Regions from separate parts of the Homo sapiens genome. Here regions 1 and 3 are each linked to region 2. The links come from fine-mapping of genetic effects on gene expression. A gene starts in region 2. Each other region holds a variant in brackets. All regions are shown on one strand. Distances are from middle to middle. Region 1 overlaps PLPP1 (phospholipid phosphatase 1). Region 2 holds the start of PLPP1 (phospholipid phosphatase 1). Region 3 overlaps PLPP1 (phospholipid phosphatase 1).

What was found. PIP is the estimated chance that this variant, and not a neighbour inherited with it, causes the effect. A credible set is the group of variants that fine-mapping cannot tell apart.
Region 1: its variant is the best candidate, but not a certain one, in a credible set for the expression of PLPP1 in whole blood (TOPMed, PIP 0.83).
Region 3: its variant is the best candidate, but not a certain one, in a credible set for the expression of PLPP1 in lymphoblastoid cells (TwinsUK, PIP 0.62).

The regions. Positions count from the first base shown.
Region 1 is chr5:55,438,074-55,443,073 of GRCh38, reverse strand. It overlaps PLPP1 (phospholipid phosphatase 1), which reads left to right. Exons shown (of 6, transcript NM_003711.4): 4 at 1,166-1,223. Among named protein-coding and RNA genes, the nearest start is that of MIR5687, 68 kb to the left of the region's middle. RefSeq lists enhancers at 1,081-1,619, 4,110-4,937. The variant ATT/T (reference allele first, on the strand shown) is at 2,030.
Region 2 is chr5:55,532,436-55,540,750 of GRCh38, reverse strand. PLPP1 (phospholipid phosphatase 1) reads left to right here and starts at 5,787. Exons shown (of 6, transcript NM_003711.4): 1 at 5,787-6,179. The coding sequence starts at 6,122. It also overlaps the pseudogene RNF138P1. RefSeq lists an enhancer at 5,265-5,334 and a silencer at 5,565-6,204.
Region 3 is chr5:55,444,410-55,449,409 of GRCh38, reverse strand. All of the region lies in intron 3 of PLPP1 (phospholipid phosphatase 1), which reads left to right. Among named protein-coding and RNA genes, the nearest start is that of MIR5687, 62 kb to the left of the region's middle. The variant C/T (reference allele first, on the strand shown) is at 2,297.

The sequences.
Region 1 (5,000 bases), 96 kb after region 2:
AACGTCTCCCTTAAATTCCTTTTGAACAAGGCAGAGTGTAATAAGTAAATTACTTAAGAGCCGGTCCCTCTTGTTTTTGTTCTTATTCTTACGTAGGGAAAAGTGGTTGGGAGATGCATTCTAGTTATTTGCATGAGCATCTTTTCGTGGCATACTTTCACTGTGCCTGATGTGCTTGCCTCTTCTGCATCAGTGGCTCATTCTGTATAAGCAAATCTTAGATCTTTAATGTTAGCTCTATTTTTCTTTTCTCAGAAGTGCCACAAAATTAAGTTTTGTAAGCATTCTGTCATTTTTAGGTGGGGAAGATGATACTTAGATGTTTATAGACTCTAATATTGAAAGAAACAAAAGCACTGAATTTGGTGGGAAATGTAAGGCAAGATGTGTGCCCATTTAAAACACCAAATTTTTTTTTTTTTGAGATGGCGTCTCCCTCTGTCACCCAGGCTGGAGTGCAGTGGTGCGATCTCGGCCCACTGCAGCCTCTGCCTCCCAGGTTCAAGCAATTCTTCTGCCTCAGCCTCCCGAGTAGCTGGGACTACAGGCACACGCCACCACGCCCGGCTAATTTTTGTGTTTTTAGTAGAGATGGGGTTTCACCATGTTGGCCAGGATGGTCTCGATCTCCTGACCTCGTGATCCGCCCGCCTTGGCCTCCTGAAGTGCTGGGATTACAGGACTGAGCCACTGCGCTGGGCCAAAATACTAAAATATTAATATGGATGGAAAAAAGCAATCAACTTCTGAGTGTTCCCAAGGAGGTATGACATTATTCAGGGACTAATCCTGCAAGTGGAAAATAAAACTTAAATCATGGTCACATAAGTGTGTATGTAATAAAGTCAAGGCAATTTGTGCCAGTTATGACTTGTCAAGTATCATTCTTCTGACATCTTAGAATTGCTTGGCAAGTTTATTTTCATGACACATTACCCATCCTGAAGGTTTCAATAAAATGATACTGTATAGAGATCTGACCTCAGATCCTTCTTGCACTCTTTAATGTTCATGTCCTAATTGTCCCCCTGCCGTACCCTTCTAATTTCTCAAAGTAGAGGGAGGCAGTTGTGTACACTCTGAAACTAAGGAGCAGATTTATGAAATCAACAATACTTTTGGCTCCTAAGAGAGAAAAGTAACATTTGTCTTCTTTTTCTTCCAGGTTGTCCTTCTATTCAGGCCACTCTTCGTTTTCCATGTACTGCATGCTGTTTGTGGCAGTAAGTACTTTGTGTCTGTTGACGGTTAGGTTATGTGCTGCATGGAATTAATGTGCTCAGCATCAGTGTCCTCACCTGTCCTAATAAATTAGCCAGTAGCAAAAGGTGAAACAGATGATCTGCAAATCTGTAAGTTTCATACTGAGAAGTAGTTGATGTGTGCCCTTACTTTGGGACGTTTCCTGAAGTGGTTTTCTGGAACACAGCTTCTGTGTAATCACAGCAGGTAACTAATCTGAAGGACTGGGACAACAGGCTGCTGTTGCTTGTTAACCTCCTCCCTAACTGGGAGCCACTCTCCTCATCTGCTCAGTGTGGGCGAACAGCAGCAGAGCTTCTTTCCTTCTGGGCTCTGCTGTGGTGAGGAGTTGGGTTTTGATCATTGTTAAGTGAAGGCAGCTGTCCTTGTTCCTATTTGAGCAGATTTTGTTTTCCTCCCATTTTCTAAAACATTCCCAGAGTGCTCTGCAAGGGACCAGAAAGGTTTCAACTGCTGGGAAAGGCAGTTGCCACTTCTGGAGCCTGTCATCTATACAACTTCCAGGTCCAGTTCTGATGCCAACCTGTAGAGCAGCAGCATAGCAATTTGCATTTGCATCATACAAAGCTGGCAGTGAGGCCTTACGAAGATTTGCACCCACATTTTGCATTATCAAACTAGAGATGAATATGTAGTTTTTTGAGAGTAACTAATGCAAGACCAGGCTTCAGGACACATTCAAGGGATTTTTAAAGGTCAATTTTACTTGATTTTTATTTTTTTATAATGTTCTCTTTACATATAAAGTATTAATAAAACACTATAT[ATT/T]TGGGTGTATTAATATGTCCTGCATTATCATTATTTAGGGGGAACAGAGAGGAGGGTTAGAAAATCTGTACCCTAATAGATCAGCTATAATTTTTGTCTTAATTTTCTTTATAAGGGGATTTTTATACAGTTGTGTTCTGTGTAAATTTGTCATTTCCTGTGTTTTTCCCTTTGATCACATTAAGTGCCGTATGATAATTTAATGCTTAGACTTAAAATGCACAATATGTAACATTAAGGGTAAACTAATGGGAATTAGTCTCAGAGATAATTTAAAATGTTTTACTAGAATCTTGCTTTTATTTGAAAAAACAAATTCCAAACATTAAAAGAATATGTAAATTGTAGATGTGTTATATAAAATTCAAAGTCAGAACCTCAAGCCATTACAACAGCTAATTTTCAAAGCTTTCATCTTACATTAATTAAATTTTGTGAAGAAGCACAGAGTATGATTCAGCAGAATTTAGGGCTTCCTTTTTAAGACACACACTCAAATGTTTCTGCAGATGCAGCATGGAAAATGTGACTTATCTGAAGGTAGTTAGCAGAAAATACTATTCTGACATCTTCTGTTCATTTATCATATTAGAAAAAAATCAGCATTCTTTCTTAAGTGAGACAACATATTTTTTTCTTTTTAATTAGAGCACGAGGACCAGGGCAGACCCGGAAGGCTGAGCAATAGCTAGAGCCGTTACTATCCTGAGAGCTCTTCCCAGAGCATGGGCCTGTGACTGGACTGAAGGGCGTTTGAATGTGTGGGCGTGCTTTGTATGCCCTGGGCTAGACCTCACTAGGTCTAGCTTTTGTCTCACTAGCTATTGTGGTTTGTTTTTCGCTCACCTGTCTGTGTTAGTGTCCAAGTCCCTCTTTATGAGAAATCTAGAAATCTGAGTTTTGATTGATCTTGATGATGATTTGCATTTTACACTACTTTTATTTTTGACTAAATTTCCATGAAAAGATGAGGGATGACTGCCACTGTTTTACAAGTGAGGGAATAGGCACCTTGGGAGGGGGCTGCTGAGTTCTGTGAGCTCTGTGGGGTTTCTTGATAATCAGGATCCCATGCTGTATTGATTGATTGATTACTTGGTCTGAACCCTAGTCCATTTATTTTGAAGGTCAGCTCATGCAGATCTCTGGAAGTAAAATGGCATTCTGGAAGTGACTGACACATAACTTTGACCCACTGTTTGTAATTTTAAAGAAAATTCTCAGCTATAACATATTCCATACTTCATCATTTTCTGCTCTTCTTCCTTGACCCTTCTCAAAACACCCATTAACGTCTGTGTAATTGGTCAAATAGTAACTTGTACTGAGGGCTGTTTTGTGAAAGATTAAAATTACTATAGAGAGGATGACATTGATATAATAGAGGGCCTCAGTGGCAGGCCTGCTCAGTGGACATGCAGCCACATATGAAGGATATCAACTCGGGAAAATGATGTCAACCATAGTGTGGTAATTGGGTCAGTTTGAACCAACTGTGTTAAAAGAACAACTTTAGATAAATTTAAGGGTGTCACTGGGCAAGGAAGAAACGACTTTCAAATTGGGCAGCCCTCAGAGTCACTGCAGATTCAGAATGACTCCACTGCTTCTAAGTGGTCAGGGAGAATTTATGGACAGAAAAAGGAAAGTGAGTACAGAAAATGGAAGCGAGGTGCAGAAACTGCCGGATTGGTTACAGCTCGGCCTTGGAGCTTTATTTGAGCGTGGTTTGAATGGCTGTGAGTGGTTGAAATATGGCTGCAGGGACTGGCTGAGACTCAGCTGCTGTTACAGAAGCACATTCCTGAGTCAGGCTCCCAGTTTGCTTACTTACCAAATTAGGTTGTTCTTTGTACAGAAGAACTCAAGTATGTGAGCAGGGGGTTTTCAGGACAGATTTTAGTTTGATTTAACAGATGTAAAGTTATAATGGCAAAAAAAGAAGCCTAGATAAATAGATTTGTTGTAGACCAAGACCTTTCTGGAGAAGAAAGCAGGCCAGAGCAACCATGCACTGCATTTTACTGACTCTAGGTAGTGGAAATATTTGCTTGATGTGGATGTAGGCCCCAGCTTTTATTTCAGCCCTGAATACACAGATCCTTGCTTTTTACATTTATGTACAACTTTTTTTTTTTTTTTTAGACGGAGTCTTGCTCTCTCACCCAGGCTGGAGTGCAGTGGCGCGATCTCGGCTCACTGCAAGCTCCACCTCCCGGGTTCACGCCATTCTCCTGCCTCAGCCTCCAGAGTAGCTGGGACTACAGGCGCCCGCCACCACGCCCGGCTAATTTTTTGTATCTTTAGTAGAGACAGGGTTTTACCGTGTTAGCCAGGATGGTCCCAATCTCCTGACCTCGTGATCCGCCTGCCTCGGGCTCCCAGTGTGTTGGGATTACAGGCGTGAGCCACCGCGCCTGGCCTATGTACAACATTTAACCTCTAAGCCCCACCCCCGAATTCCTTGAGCAATGACTCATCTTGTTTCTCTGGGCACCTTGGCTTCATGAGTCAGTCTCAGATTTGGGTAGAGACGTAGTCATTTAAATCCTCTCCTAGGACAGTCTTTGATAGCCAAAACTTCTCTGTCAATTCCTGACACCCAGAAATTAACTTCTAGTTAAAAATGGCTCTTAAAACACCCTGACCATTGTTCTTCTCTGGCAGCCAGTGCAGCCCTGCACACTTAACTGTGCCAAGAGAGTGTCAGCATCAGTGAAAACCTCCCAGGCCTGCGGGAGCTCAGGGCAGGGCTGCTTTGCACATAGCCAGTTTATATGCTTAGTGACTCCCCGTGAACTTGGCTGAATGCCAGAGATTCCAAATTTATTTGATTATTCAGGAGAACAGCCATGGTATGAGTCTGTATTTTCTTTCAATACAGTGAGGAGTGTTAAAATACTTTTCCTGAGACCCTTCTATTGAGGCTGTAACCCCAGATTGTTTATATCACCGCCTGTTATGAAATT
Region 2 (8,315 bases):
CACAGCTGCTAATAAAGGAAGTGAAATGACAAGCCACATACTCGGAGAAAAAATTTACCACACAAAGAATTACTATGAAGAGCATATGAATAACTTCCACAATTAAATAAGAATAAGATATACAATAGAAAACAATAGAAAAATGAAAAAAAAAAATAGAAAACACAACAGAAAAATGGCAAAAGACATGAACAGGCAGTTAATAGAAGAGGAAACATTTTTGGTGAATACATTTAGGGAAAGACATCCAACCACATTAGTGACCAGGGAAATGCAAATTAAGGCTACATTGAGATACACATTTATACCTACTAAATTAGCAAAAGTTAAGAAGTCTCAGAATATTGCATTGATGAGAATGTGGAGTTTCATCCACCACTAGTGGGGGTGTGGATGAAATGGTATAACCATTTAGTAAAACAATCTGAGATTATCTCATGAAGTTGAATGTGGACATACTACAAAATGCAGCTAGTAATTCCACACAAGAGACATGTACACAAATGCCTGCAGCAAGCATTATTTGCATAAATGAAAACCCCGATGACTATTGTCAGAAGAATGAACAAAATGATGTATTCATATGACAGACCTACTATTGCAGCAGCATGAATGAATGTAAGAAATATAATTGAGTGAAAAAATATCAAGGGCAGAAGATTAAATCTATGGCATAATATTTTTAAAAGCTAAAAAACAAGCAAGTGAAACAATATATATTTTTAGAGATACATATGCACGTGGTTAAACGATATGGAAAAAACAAAGCTAGGGAAAGGTAAATATAGAATTCAGGTGCTTTCAAAGATTCTGCAATGATCCAGGTGTTCAGTTGAATAGAATTGTAGATTCATAGTTGCCCATTTTATTATGCCTCATAACTTATTATTATTTATTTGTTTTTTTGAGACGGAGTCTCGCTCTGTCACCCAGTCTGGAGTGCAGTGGCAGGATCTTGGCTCATTGCAACCTCTGCCTCCTCGGTTCAAGCGATTCTCCTGCCTCAGCCTCCCCAGTAACTGGGACTACAGGTATGTGCCACCATGCCCAGGTAATTTTTTTGTATTTTTAGTAGAGACGGGGTTTCACCAGGTTGCTCAGGCTGCTCTCGAACTCCTGACCTCAAATGATCTGCCTGCCTCGGCCTCCCACAGTGCTGGGATTACAGGCGTGAGCCACCACGCCTGGCCTTTCATAACTTATTTATATGTTATATATTTATGTATCAAACATTACATGATTAAAATTTTTATTTTATTTTTATTTTTATTTATTTATTTTTTGAGATGGAGTCTCGCTTTGTCGCCCAGGCTGGAGTGCAGTGGCACCACCTCGGCTCACTGCAACCTCCGTCTCCCGAGTTCAAGTGATTCTCCTGCCTCAGCTTCCCAAGTAGCTGGGATTACAGGCGCGTGCCACCACATCCGCTAATTTTTGTATTTTTGGTAGAGATGGGGTTTCACCATCTTGGCCCGCCTCGGCCTCCCAAAGTATCGGGATTACAGGCGTTGAGCCACCGTGGTCGGCCGATTAAAAACTTTAATAAGGTATGAAGCAAATGGCTTTGACAAAAAGTGTAAAAAGGATTAAAATACACCATCCTGTGAAATTTTCTTTTTGGAGCACATGTACTGGGGAACCAGACATCGACATTTTTAGTTATTTTAGTTTCACAGTGCTATTTGAGTATAATAGAAACTGTATTTGCTTCAGTCAATTTGGGGAGAAAGAACATAAACACATGGAAACACAAATATCCTAAGGGAATTGAGTCTTATTACTTTGCAGACAATTTTTGAAATAAATAAGTTGCTGAGACAGTAAGTGCTGTTAGAATGGAGAGAGGGAGACTTACCAATAATATTATGTTAAAGAGCAGTGCAAGTAGAGGAGTGGGGACAGAATTGAGCATGCAGAGGTATCGAAAGAGAAAGTGGAAATGCAGCATGTAAATTGCAGATTCCTTTTCAAGAAGTTTAGTAATGACAGAAGAGAGGAAATTAGCTTCTTTCTTCTTCAGGGAGCTTCAGGACTGTTCTTCGGAAGCCCACCCTACTTTGCTTTTGTTTGATGCCTGTATTACAGGGAGAAAAGTTTGGCCCAAGGACAAACTTTGTTAAGCATTTATGCAAGCCTCTGAGGTTTCTTTCTTTATTTTTTTAAAGTATTTTTTTCTGGGATGCACAAACTCCAGAGAAATGGAGTCAGTGCTCTCGCTTCTGAGGTTTCATGTTCAGTCCAGGGACACACTCATAGCTGCCCCCCTCCCCCGGGGGTATTAATGGTGTTACCATTTAATTCGTGTTTCCTTTTTAAATTATTTTCATCACCATTTCAAAGTTATTTAACTCATTCTCAATTCCAATGATCACACCAGAATTCAATTATGACAACAAACCAAAACAGTCAAACAAAAAAATTCCCCCAAAAAGGAATGAAAGCTCCCCATTCCAAAACAAAATGATGTGTCATAGTCATTCTTTCCACAAATAAGGGCTTATTAATTGTTTTTTTTTTTTTTTTTGAGACAGAGTCTCCCTCTGTCACCCAGGCTGGAATGCAGTGGTGCGATCTTGGCTCACTGCAACCTCCGCCTCCTGGGTTCCAGCGATTCTCCTGCCTCAGCCTCCCGAGTAGCTGGGATTACAGGTGCCTGCCACCATGCCTGGCTAACTTTTTTGTATTTTTCTTTTTTTTTTTTGAGATGGAGTTTCACTCTTGTTGCCCAGGCTGGAGTGCAATGGCGCAATCTTGGCTTACCGCAACCTCTGCCTCCCGGGTTCAAGTGATTTTCCTGCCTCAGCCTCTCAAATAGCTGGGATTACAGTCATGTGCCACCAGGCCTGGCTAATCTTTGCATTTTTATTAGAGACAGGGTTTCTCTTGTTGGTCAGGCTGGTCTCGAACTCCCACCTCAGGTGATCTGCCTGCCTCGGCCTCCCAAAATGCTGGGATTACAGGCGCGAGCCACAGCGCCCAGCCTACTTTTTGGTATTTTTCATAGAGACAGGGTTTCATCATGTTGGCCAGGCTGGTTTCAAACTCCTGACCTCAAGTGATCCGACCGCCTCAGCCTCCCAAATATTGCTAGGATTACAGGAGTGAGCCACCGTGCCTGGCCTTATTAATTGCTTATAATCTGCACATGGCACAAGTCCCATTTAAAATAACAGGAAATGACAATGCATTTTAATGGGCTTTGGTTTATTAATCTATTTTATTTATTTATTTATTTATTTATTTATTTATTTATTTATTTGAGACAGAGTCTAGCTCTGTTGCCAGGCTGGCTAGAGTGCAGTGGCATGATCCCGGCTCACTGCAACCTCCGCTTCCTGGATTCCAGCGATTCTCTTGCCTCAGCCTCCATGTAGCTGGGACTACAGGCACGTGCCACCATGCCCAGCTAAGTTTTGTATTTTTAGTAGAGACGGAGTTTCACCATGTTGGCCAGGATGGTCTCGATCTCTTGACCTCGTAATCCACCCGCCTCGGCCTCCAAAAGTGCTGGGATTACAGGCGTGAGCCACCGTGCCCAGCCCTAATCACATGCTTTCTAAGTGGGCCTCAGGATTCCCCTTGTGGGCAGAGAACTTCTCTTGTTTATTTTAGCTTCTTCACAGATGTGTACCAGGTATCCATTAGGGGCTCAATAAATGTTGAATTAATGAATGTGTGAATAAACAAAAAATCACTAATCAGTAAGGTTTTTTTGAATGCTTATTTTTGAAAACGCACTTTAAGAGTAAATTTTTTTTTTAAATAGAAAGAATAAGATCTAGTACTTGATAGTACAACAGGGTCACTATAGTTAATAATTAAATTGTACATTTTAAAATAACTAAAAGAGTATAATTGAATTGTTTGTAATACAAAGGATAAATGCTTGAGAGGATGGATACCTCATTTTCCATGATGTAATTATTACACATTGCATACGTGTATCAAAACATCTCATTACCCCAAAATATATACACCTATTATGTACCCACAAAAAGTAAAAATAAAAAATTTTTAAAAAGTAAATGTTTTTAAAAATTACTTTTAAAAAGTAAATATTTCAAAAGCTGTTTAAGACACTGAGACTAGACTGTAACACAATAGGTGCTCAACAAATGTTTTTTGAATAAATACCTAATACTCAGACATCACAAGTACTTTGAATTTATTGTGACCTTGCAATCTGAGGCCCTTGTAACTCTGGAAGTAAAGAAAGCTACATGATAAACAATGGCACATCTTTCTCAGGTGTAAATTGCTTAAAGCTTTTACGGCTATTTAAACAAGAGGCAAAATAAAACATTAGCATTCGTTTTAAAGAAAAACATCTTTCTTCAAATGTATATTTTGTTTTTGAGAGCTTACTTGGGGCTGTATCTCCAGACTCTGTTTAATGTTATCTTTCCATTGGCTTTATGAGTGCTTTGCAGGATAAGTCGAAGAAGTAGTAGGCACATTTTGTGATTTGTGTTTTACATATTTAAAGAGAAAATATACCAATCATTAACATCTGTAGACGGTTTAACTCTAGATAAAGCCACTATCATATAATCTTTTCTGGGTTTCACTTCTTCCTCCAGACTGGAACACTGGGCAGCTTAAAGCTGTAAAAGCTTTAAGCAATTTACACCTGAGAAAGATGGGCCATTGTTTATCATGTGGCTTTCTTTACTTCCAGAGTTACAAGGGCCTCAGATTGCAAGGTCACAATAAATTCAAAGTACTTGTGATGTCTGAGTATTAGGTATTTATTTAAAAAATCCCCATTTTACATATTAGGAAACTGAGATTACTAAATGTGGGCTAGGGTCCTCCTGGGTATGGGGCAGGGGGAGTGCTTGCTGCTGTTAAAGAAAATTATCCTGACACTTGTCAAACACATGAATAATTTATTCAAGATTATTACAATAAGGGTCATGACTATTGGAACAGGAGAGAGAAATTGAGCTCAACTCAGAATACAGCAAAGACAGCAGGGGATTTATAGCCAAGGAACAGGCACCGTGTCTGTGAGGGAGGTGACGGTGGATGGAAAATTACTAAGAGGAGACATCAAGGGTAGAGGGATTCTGGCTAAAGGCAGGTCAAGGGCTTCTACAACAAAGGTGTAATATAAGGAATCTAATCCGATATTAAATATCAAGAATTCAACGGTGATCAGGTATCGAGGATGGATGATTTAGCATGCTTCTTGCTAACATTTGGGCTCAGCCAGGACACAGGGAGGTCAACGTTGAGGCCTAAGTGAGAAAGGGCTCAGAGGTACCAAACTAAAGGAGAGCGTCTCTGTTCCTGCCTACTCTGACCTCTTTTCCCCCCTTAAACTCAGTGGTAACAATCTGACCTGTTTATTACCTCATCCCCATGGAAGGGGTGGGGAGTGGCAGGCAGCCGGTGCTCTAGGATCGTTGGGTAGGGAGCCTAGCTCTCTGAAAGCAGCAATGCCTAGTGGGGGTACCGAGGCCGAGTTCGGAGACCACCTGAGCAATTGCGGTCCAGAGCAAAGCCCCCTGGATCGGAACGGGAGCCGCCCCCACGCCCCGCCCGGCTGCCGAGAGCCGCACTTCTGGGCGGATGCCGCAGGTCGGGAGGGATGAGGCCGACGGCGCTGATTGGCTGACCGCCGCGGCCTGGGGTTTCCCTGGCCCCGCCCCTGCTGCACTCCCCCCGCCCGCGAACCCGCGCGCTGCCCGGTCCTGCGCTGCTCAGCGGGAGGGGCTGGACCCCGCGTTCCTCCTCCCTGCCGGTCCCCATCCTTAAAGCGAGAGTCTGGACGCCCCGCCTGTGGGAGAGAGCGCCGGGATCCGGACGGGGAGCAACCGGGGCAGGCCGTGCCGGCTGAGGAGGTCCTGAGGCTACAGAGCTGCCGCGGCTGGCACACGAGCGCCTCGGCACTAACCGAGTGTTCGCGGGGGCTGTGAGGGGAGGGCCCCGGGCGCCATTGCTGGCGGTGGGAGCGCCGCCCGGTCTCAGCCCGCCCTCGGCTGCTCTCCTCCTCCGGCTGGGAGGGGCCGTAGCTCGGGGCCGTCGCCAGCCCCGGCCCGGGCTCGAGAATCAAGGGCCTCGGCCGCCGTCCCGCAGCTCAGTCCATCGCCCTTGCCGGGCAGCCCGGGCAGAGACCATGTTTGACAAGACGCGGCTGCCGTACGTGGCCCTCGATGTGCTCTGCGTGTTGCTGGGTACGTACGCGCCGCCGGGTCCGAGGGGCGTGTGCGGCTGTCCCGGGAGGGCTTTAGCGCAGAGCCGCGACGGGCAGCGGGGGTGTGTTGCCTGACGCGTGCGCAGCTGTGGGGCGACACACGGGGGCGGCTTCTGCAGCCGAGGGACCCCGCTTTGCAGCCTGCACCCCGGCTCCCGCGTGCCCGCCGCTGTCTGTCGCCCGCCGGTGCGATGAGCCCAGCCCTGCTTGGACGCTGTTCACGCCTCTGCGCTCCATACCTTGCTCCTGTCCTCTGTTTGCAGTTCCACTCTAGCAGAGCAGGGTGGGCTCCTCCCCTCTGTACGGTAGAGGAGCCTGGTCACTGGCCCATCTCAGTAGTGAAACTGGAGGTTTGATGCACAGGGGATTCTCAGTAGCAGGCGCCAGTGCCTGATTTATCGTGAGAAGCAGTTTAATATTTCGGCTATAAAAGGCTAGAACTAGTTCCTAATTAGAAGGTGTGCCAGGTTGTAAATTGTCAGGTTGCAAGTAGGGATGAGCACGCCAAGTTTTTGCGTATAGGTCTAAAGAAGTTTTGGGGGTGGGGGAGGATGCGGTACCCCAGACCTGTTTCCTTGTCTGCCCAGACCTTGCCATGGTGTAGCTTTCCATCTCTTGTGACAGTGTCTCAAGGAGCAGTAGACATTCTTTGGCTGCAGCAGATTTCGCATTGTCTTCCTGATTGGAAGAGTTCAGTTATGAGGCTTCTGGTTGCCAGTTACTCCTTTCTTTTGAAGAGAAAGAACTGGAATCATTTGGATAAGGGATGGGCGTTGGAAGGAGTAGTTTTCACTTTTTATGTATTGTATAAGGCAGTTATGCTGTGAACTATTTATATATGATGGAATAAACAAAAACAAAGCAAGAGCTGCTGGAGGTTTGGATAGTCCTACTCATGTTGAAGTAATCAGAATAGTAGTAGTATTGGCAAGTTCTCAGGGTGGGAGATCTGTGGCTTTAGCCACCTGGATGGAAGTCTGCGTAATGGTTTCTCAGTGACAGGAGATTCCCTCGGTTTTAATCCAGTAGTTCCTAGTTATTCCACTCTCCAGTTTCCAACCGGGTCATTTAGGCCCTTGCAATCTTGTGGAATTCTTATAAATTCTGTTACCAGGTTTTGTTGTTGTTGTAAGGAAAAATTCCATTTTGTTATCTTTTTTTTTTTTTTTTGGATACAGTCTCTCTCTGTCACCCAGGCTGGAGTGCAGTGGCGGGATCTCGGCTCACTGCAGCCTCTGCCGCCTGGGTCCAAGTGATTATCCTGTCTTGGCCTCTCTAGTAGCTGGGATTACAGGCACCGCCACCATGCCTGGCTAATTTTTCTGTTTTTAGTAGAGACAGGGTTTCTCCATGTTGGCCAGGCTGGTCTCGAACTCCTGACCTCAGGTGATCCGCCTGTCTCAGCCTCCCAAAGTGTTGGGATTACAGGTGTGAGCCACAGCGCTGGGCCCTAAAACTGCATTTTGTTACCTGTTAATATGAAGCATCTTTGTTGTTTCCCAAGACACTTCCTGTTTAGGTCCACAGTGAGTTTTAGGAATTAAGTTTAGGAAAGTGGAACACAATTTTGGCACATTGTCTTTTTTTTTTTTTTTTTGGAGACGGTCTTGCTCTGTCGCCCAGGCTGGAGTGCAGTGGCGCGATCTTGGCTCACTGCAACCTCCGCTTCCCGGGTTCAAGCAGTTCTCTGCCTCAGCCTCCTGAGTAGCTGGGATTACAAGCACATACCACCATGCCCGGCTAACTTTCGTATTTTTAGTAGAGACGGGGTTTCACCGTCTTGGCCAGGCTGGCCTTGAACTCTTGACCTTGTGATCCACCCGCCTTGGCCTCCCAAAGTGCTGGGATTACAGGCGTCAACCACCGCGCCCAACTGAACACTGTCTTTATAAAAACACAGTCCTTTCAGATGTCGGGACTTATTAATAATTAAATATATTCAAATTTATTTGCAACAAAAAATTACCTTTCATAGAAATGTTACATTAAAAAATATATTTTAACTTATACTTGATGTCATTGGAACTTTGTTAAACTTTGTTTATATTTTAGTGAAAGGAGAGGAAAATGTTCGATCAGAAAAAAATATATTTCTAATATATTGAATATTATCCTA
Region 3 (5,000 bases), 90 kb after region 2:
AGCAGGCATGTCAGATATTTTGACAACCATTACTTTAAAATATTGTCACATATATATTATCCCTTTTACATCAAGTTGTGTTTCCAGTATTATCACCGTGTTATGTGAAAGTTTAGTTTAACCCCCATTTGATACCTTTCCCTGGAGCTGCTGTTAATAGTTTGTATTTCCTTTCAGTCATTTTGCTATGTATTTTTATATTGAATGTGAAATTGTATAGTTTGTGTGGATTAAATAAGTAACATTTAAAATATGTCTTGGAGACACAGCTTGTATCAGTTCACATAGAGCTATTCATTTTAGTTAATATGTTGTACAATCAGTTCTCCATATCTGTGGATTCAACTAACTGTGGATTGAAAATACTTGTGAAAAAAATTGCATCTGTACTGAACGTATACAGACTTTTTTCTTGCCATTATTCCCTAATCAATACAGTAGGACAACTATTTACATAGCATTTACGTTGTATTAGGTATTGGAGGTAATCTAGAGATGATTTAAAGTATATGGGATAATGTGTGTAGGTTATATGCAAATACTGTGTCATTTTATATCAGGGACTTGAGCATCCATGGATTTTGGTATCCTTGGAAGGTCCAGGAACCAGTTCCCCACAGATACCATGGGGCGACAGTATTCAGAATAATGCTAGTAGAATCGGCTGGGTGCGGAGGCTCATGCCTGTAATCCCAACACTCTGGGAGGCTGAGGTGGGTGGATCACCTGAGGTCAGGAGTTTGAGACCAGCCTGGCCAGCATGGTGAAACTCCATCTCTACAAAAAATACAAAAATTAGCTGGGTGTGGTGGCGCACGCCTGTAATCCTAGCTACTTGGGAGGCTGAGGCAGGAGAATCGCTTGAACCCAGGAGGTGGAGGTTGTGGTGAGCCAAGATTGCACCACGGCACTCCAGCCTGGGCGACAGAGCAAGACTCTGTCAAAAAAAAAAAAAAAAAAGGTGCTAGAATCTTCCTTGGGTCCTTGAGTTTCCGGCAGTGTTGCAGTAAACGTCTGCATTTCTCTAGGAGACATACCTCAAAGTGGAATTACTGGGTCACATAATACATTTTTCCTATGTTGATTGATATTTCCAAACCATCCTCCAGAAAGTGTGCAATATGAGAGTGCTCATTTTCTCATTCATCACCTACTTGATTCCTTAAGTATCTTAGATGTGAGATTCTTGTAGATAATAATCTGATATCTCATTGCCAAATCATTTAGCACAGTTATCGATTGTCAAAATCTTTCTGAAATAAACTATGACTAATATACTTAGGAAAAGTTTATGTTCATTAAGAGGTCATTGCTCATATATCCATTTGTAGCATTTGTACAGGACATTTTAACTTTTTTATAGGATCAGTCCATGTTTACAGATTATCAGAGAGGGGAACTTATGCTATACTTCAGGTTAATCTGCTGTTATATAAACTTTATAATCAGGAAATAACATTTGAGAAAATGCCTCGTTATGGTTTGATTTCCTTTTTTTTGCATTTAGAGTGTACAAAAAAGACAAATTGGTATTCACTTAAAATGATTATTTACTGAACTCTAGCCTGAGTGACAGAGCGAGACCCTGTCTCTAAAGAAGACAATTTTTACATTGACAACATCTATTTCTTCATGGATTAAGTCTAATTTCTTCTTCGTATATTTACTTTACACATTTTGCCACATGTAAACTGTACTTTGTGATGGAACTCCCCTGCCTGGAGATGGCAGGATTAAAGTTCCTCTTTGTCTGTCTACCATTGACAAGAGTGAAATCATGGCACAGAAAGAGTTGGGAAGACTCAGATTTGAGCTGCAGAGACGTGACTTTTCGAGCAAGTTACTGAACCTGTCTGAGAATCATTATCTCTGTGTGAGCACGAGAGTTTTTGTGAAAGTAGAAACGCTGTGTATTAAGTACCTGAACATACTCAGTAACTTGTAACAATTATAAGTCTTTAAACAACCTTTCTGCCTTATAATGCTTTGGGAATCAATTTCAGGATGATTTTTAGGGGAAAAAGGAAATTCTAATTTGTAGCAGAACCAACTTTGGCATACCTGGGGGAAATGGTGGTATAGTAATAATTTGAAACATTTTTGAGCATTGGTCACTGTATAATTAAAAACAAACCGCTGTTGCTGAAACTATTTTGTCTGTTAGTAAAGTGACTGATTTTAGATAGCATTTCATTAGTTCTAAGTGTTCTTTTAAAAAAGCCTGCTTCTATTTCTGGTAACATGGAGGATTAGAAGTGCCTACTGATAATAGTTCAGCTAAACGTGCTACATGATA[C/T]GTTACACACACACTTGTGTATACTGTATCTTAAATTATATATACACATCTTGAAACACATTTAAGTGTTTTTAGTAAATAGTTTAGCTGGTGGGAGAGTAAAGGGATTTTTCTGAGGCCTGCGTCAGTTAGTGCTGTAGATCCAGTGTGGTCCTTGAAAGTATCTGCCGGTTCCTGGTGGCATAGACACTGAGTTTTGATAGGCAGTGAACATGGGGCACAGATATAAAGGCTGAGGCCGGGGAAGAGGACATAAAAGACATGTGGATAATGTGAGAACTCCCGAAGAGTGGCAGCATCCTCCCCGTGGGAGCTATTAAAAAGAATTCTTAAACACAGGACCACACTCACACTGGTCTGGAGCAAGAATTCATACTATTTGGTTTAGGAAGGAAAAGGAAAAAAAGCTTGAAGTTTAAAGTGTATTGGTAGTGAACCCAGCATAAGTGAACACATACCTTCTCTGGAGGAACTCTCCTTAAACCAAGGCTCAAAGATTCCCCTCAGATAGAGTCCTAATGACTTCATTCTAATATAAATGGACCTATGTGGAAACAAGCTACCCTGAGACAGTCAGCAAATACAACAAATTACCTAAACTCTCAAAGAGATTACAGATATTAGAATTACCAGGTGTAGACTAAAATAAGAGGAGATAGAAAATATGATGTGGGATGAAGAGAATCAAAGTTGGCCAAGTAGGTTTGGAACCAAAGGGATTTGTAAATGATACATATATGGTAATTTAAAATTTACAGTGTAACATATTGATTAAGCAGATTAGATACAGTGAAAGGGATGACAAAATGAAAGATACACCTAAAGAGACCTAGATGAAAAATAGAGAAGAAAGGGTAAGAGATCTGGAGGAATAGAATGCAAAGGTCTTACGTGTTGAATCAGCATCCCATAGAAAGGTACGAGGATGGAGGATGCCCAGTATGCAAAGGTGGCTGAGGACTTCTACAAATTGGTGAGTCCTCAGATAGAAGAAGCCAATGAATACTAAACTAGAGCAATAAAAGGAAATCCTAGTACTAGACACAATGCAGTAAAACTAGAATATTGATTGATGGGGGCAGGAGGAGAGGAAGCAGTTACAGAGAAAAGACAGATTACCCAGAAAGAACTGGCTGACAGATGGCTTATATTTTAACAGCAAAAGCAGAAGCCAGAAGATAGCGCAATGATAGCCTCAAAGCGATGAGAAAAAAAGTCATCAATTTAGAATTCTGTACTCAGGAATACCATCATTCAAGAATGAATGTAGGCTGGGCACAGTGGCTCATGTCTGTAATCCCAGCACTTTGGGAGGCCGAGGCAGGCAGGTCACTCGAGGTCAGGAGTTTGAGGCCAGCCTGGGCAACACGGTGAAACCCTGTCTCTACTAAAAATACAAAAATTAGCCAGGCATGATGGCAGGCGCCTCTAATCCCTGCTACTTGGGAGGCTGAGGCAGGAGAATTGCTTGAACCCAGGAGGCGGAGGTTGCAGTGAGCTCAGATTGGGCCACTGAACTCCAGCCTGGGTGACAGAGTGAGACTCTGTCTCAAAAAAAAAAAAAAAAAAAAAAAAAAAGAGTGAATGCAAAATAAAGATATTTCAAATGAAAACAGCTAAAGATGTATCTGTTTTGTGCTTTTTAACTTTGGAGAGTAGGGAGGAGGAAAGGAAGAAAGTCAGGTGGTGGGAAGAGATCAGAGATGATCAGCTGGGTTCTTTGTGATTTAACCTCCTTCTGAGCCCCAAAATACTAAATTAAGATATGCTTTATATGAGTTGATTGCTTTTGATGCTGATGAAGGATGGATTTGATTGTGTCTTTGCGATTTATGAGGCTGAACATGGATGTGGATGTTGGAGCACAGAGATAGAAGAATGCTCAGTCGAGGAGGGAACTCACATGCATGGGGGCAGGCGGATGCAGGCAGATGGCTATGAATGCTCTCAATGCCATGATATTGGGGATCAGGCCAAGTTTAATCAGCTCTGAGAAGGGGGTGCCCTGGCTGGCAAATGTGAGGAAAAAAACATCATAAAGTTGCCATTTGAAATAGAATCCCAGGCTAGGCGCGGTGGCTCACGCCTGTAATCCCAGTACTTTGGGAGGCCGAGGCGGGCAGATCACCTGAGGTCAGGAGTTCAAGACCAGCCTGGCCAACAGGGCGAAACCCCATCTCTACTAAAAATACAACAATTAGCTGGGCGTGGTGGTGCGCACCTGTAGTCCCAGCTACTCAGGAGGGTGAGACAGGAGAATCACTTGAACCCAGGAGGCAGAGGTGGCAGTGAGCCAAATCACGCCACTGCACTCCAGCCTGGGTAACAGAGCGAGACTCCATCACACACACACACACACACACACACACAAAATAGAATCCCATTCATAGTGATTTATGTAGTCAAAATCAGTTTACTTAATAATTGAAGCTGGCTTATTGTTCAGTAGACCACCCCTCAGAGTCAGTGAAAACAGCAGCATTTCAAAATACATTTTTCTCTCCGTAAATTTTCTTCCTGAGAAGATTTTCGTAAGATTTGGTTGGAAAGCTGGCTCACATTGTTACTGTACTGTACTTGCCTTCATCAGAGAGGCTATAATGAAGTGAGATGATAGTCTAGGATTGGTTAAAATCTAGAATTGGTTAAAGTCTAAGGGCAGGGTTCTTAGGCCAGGGCCATAGTCTTAAACATTTCAGTGAAG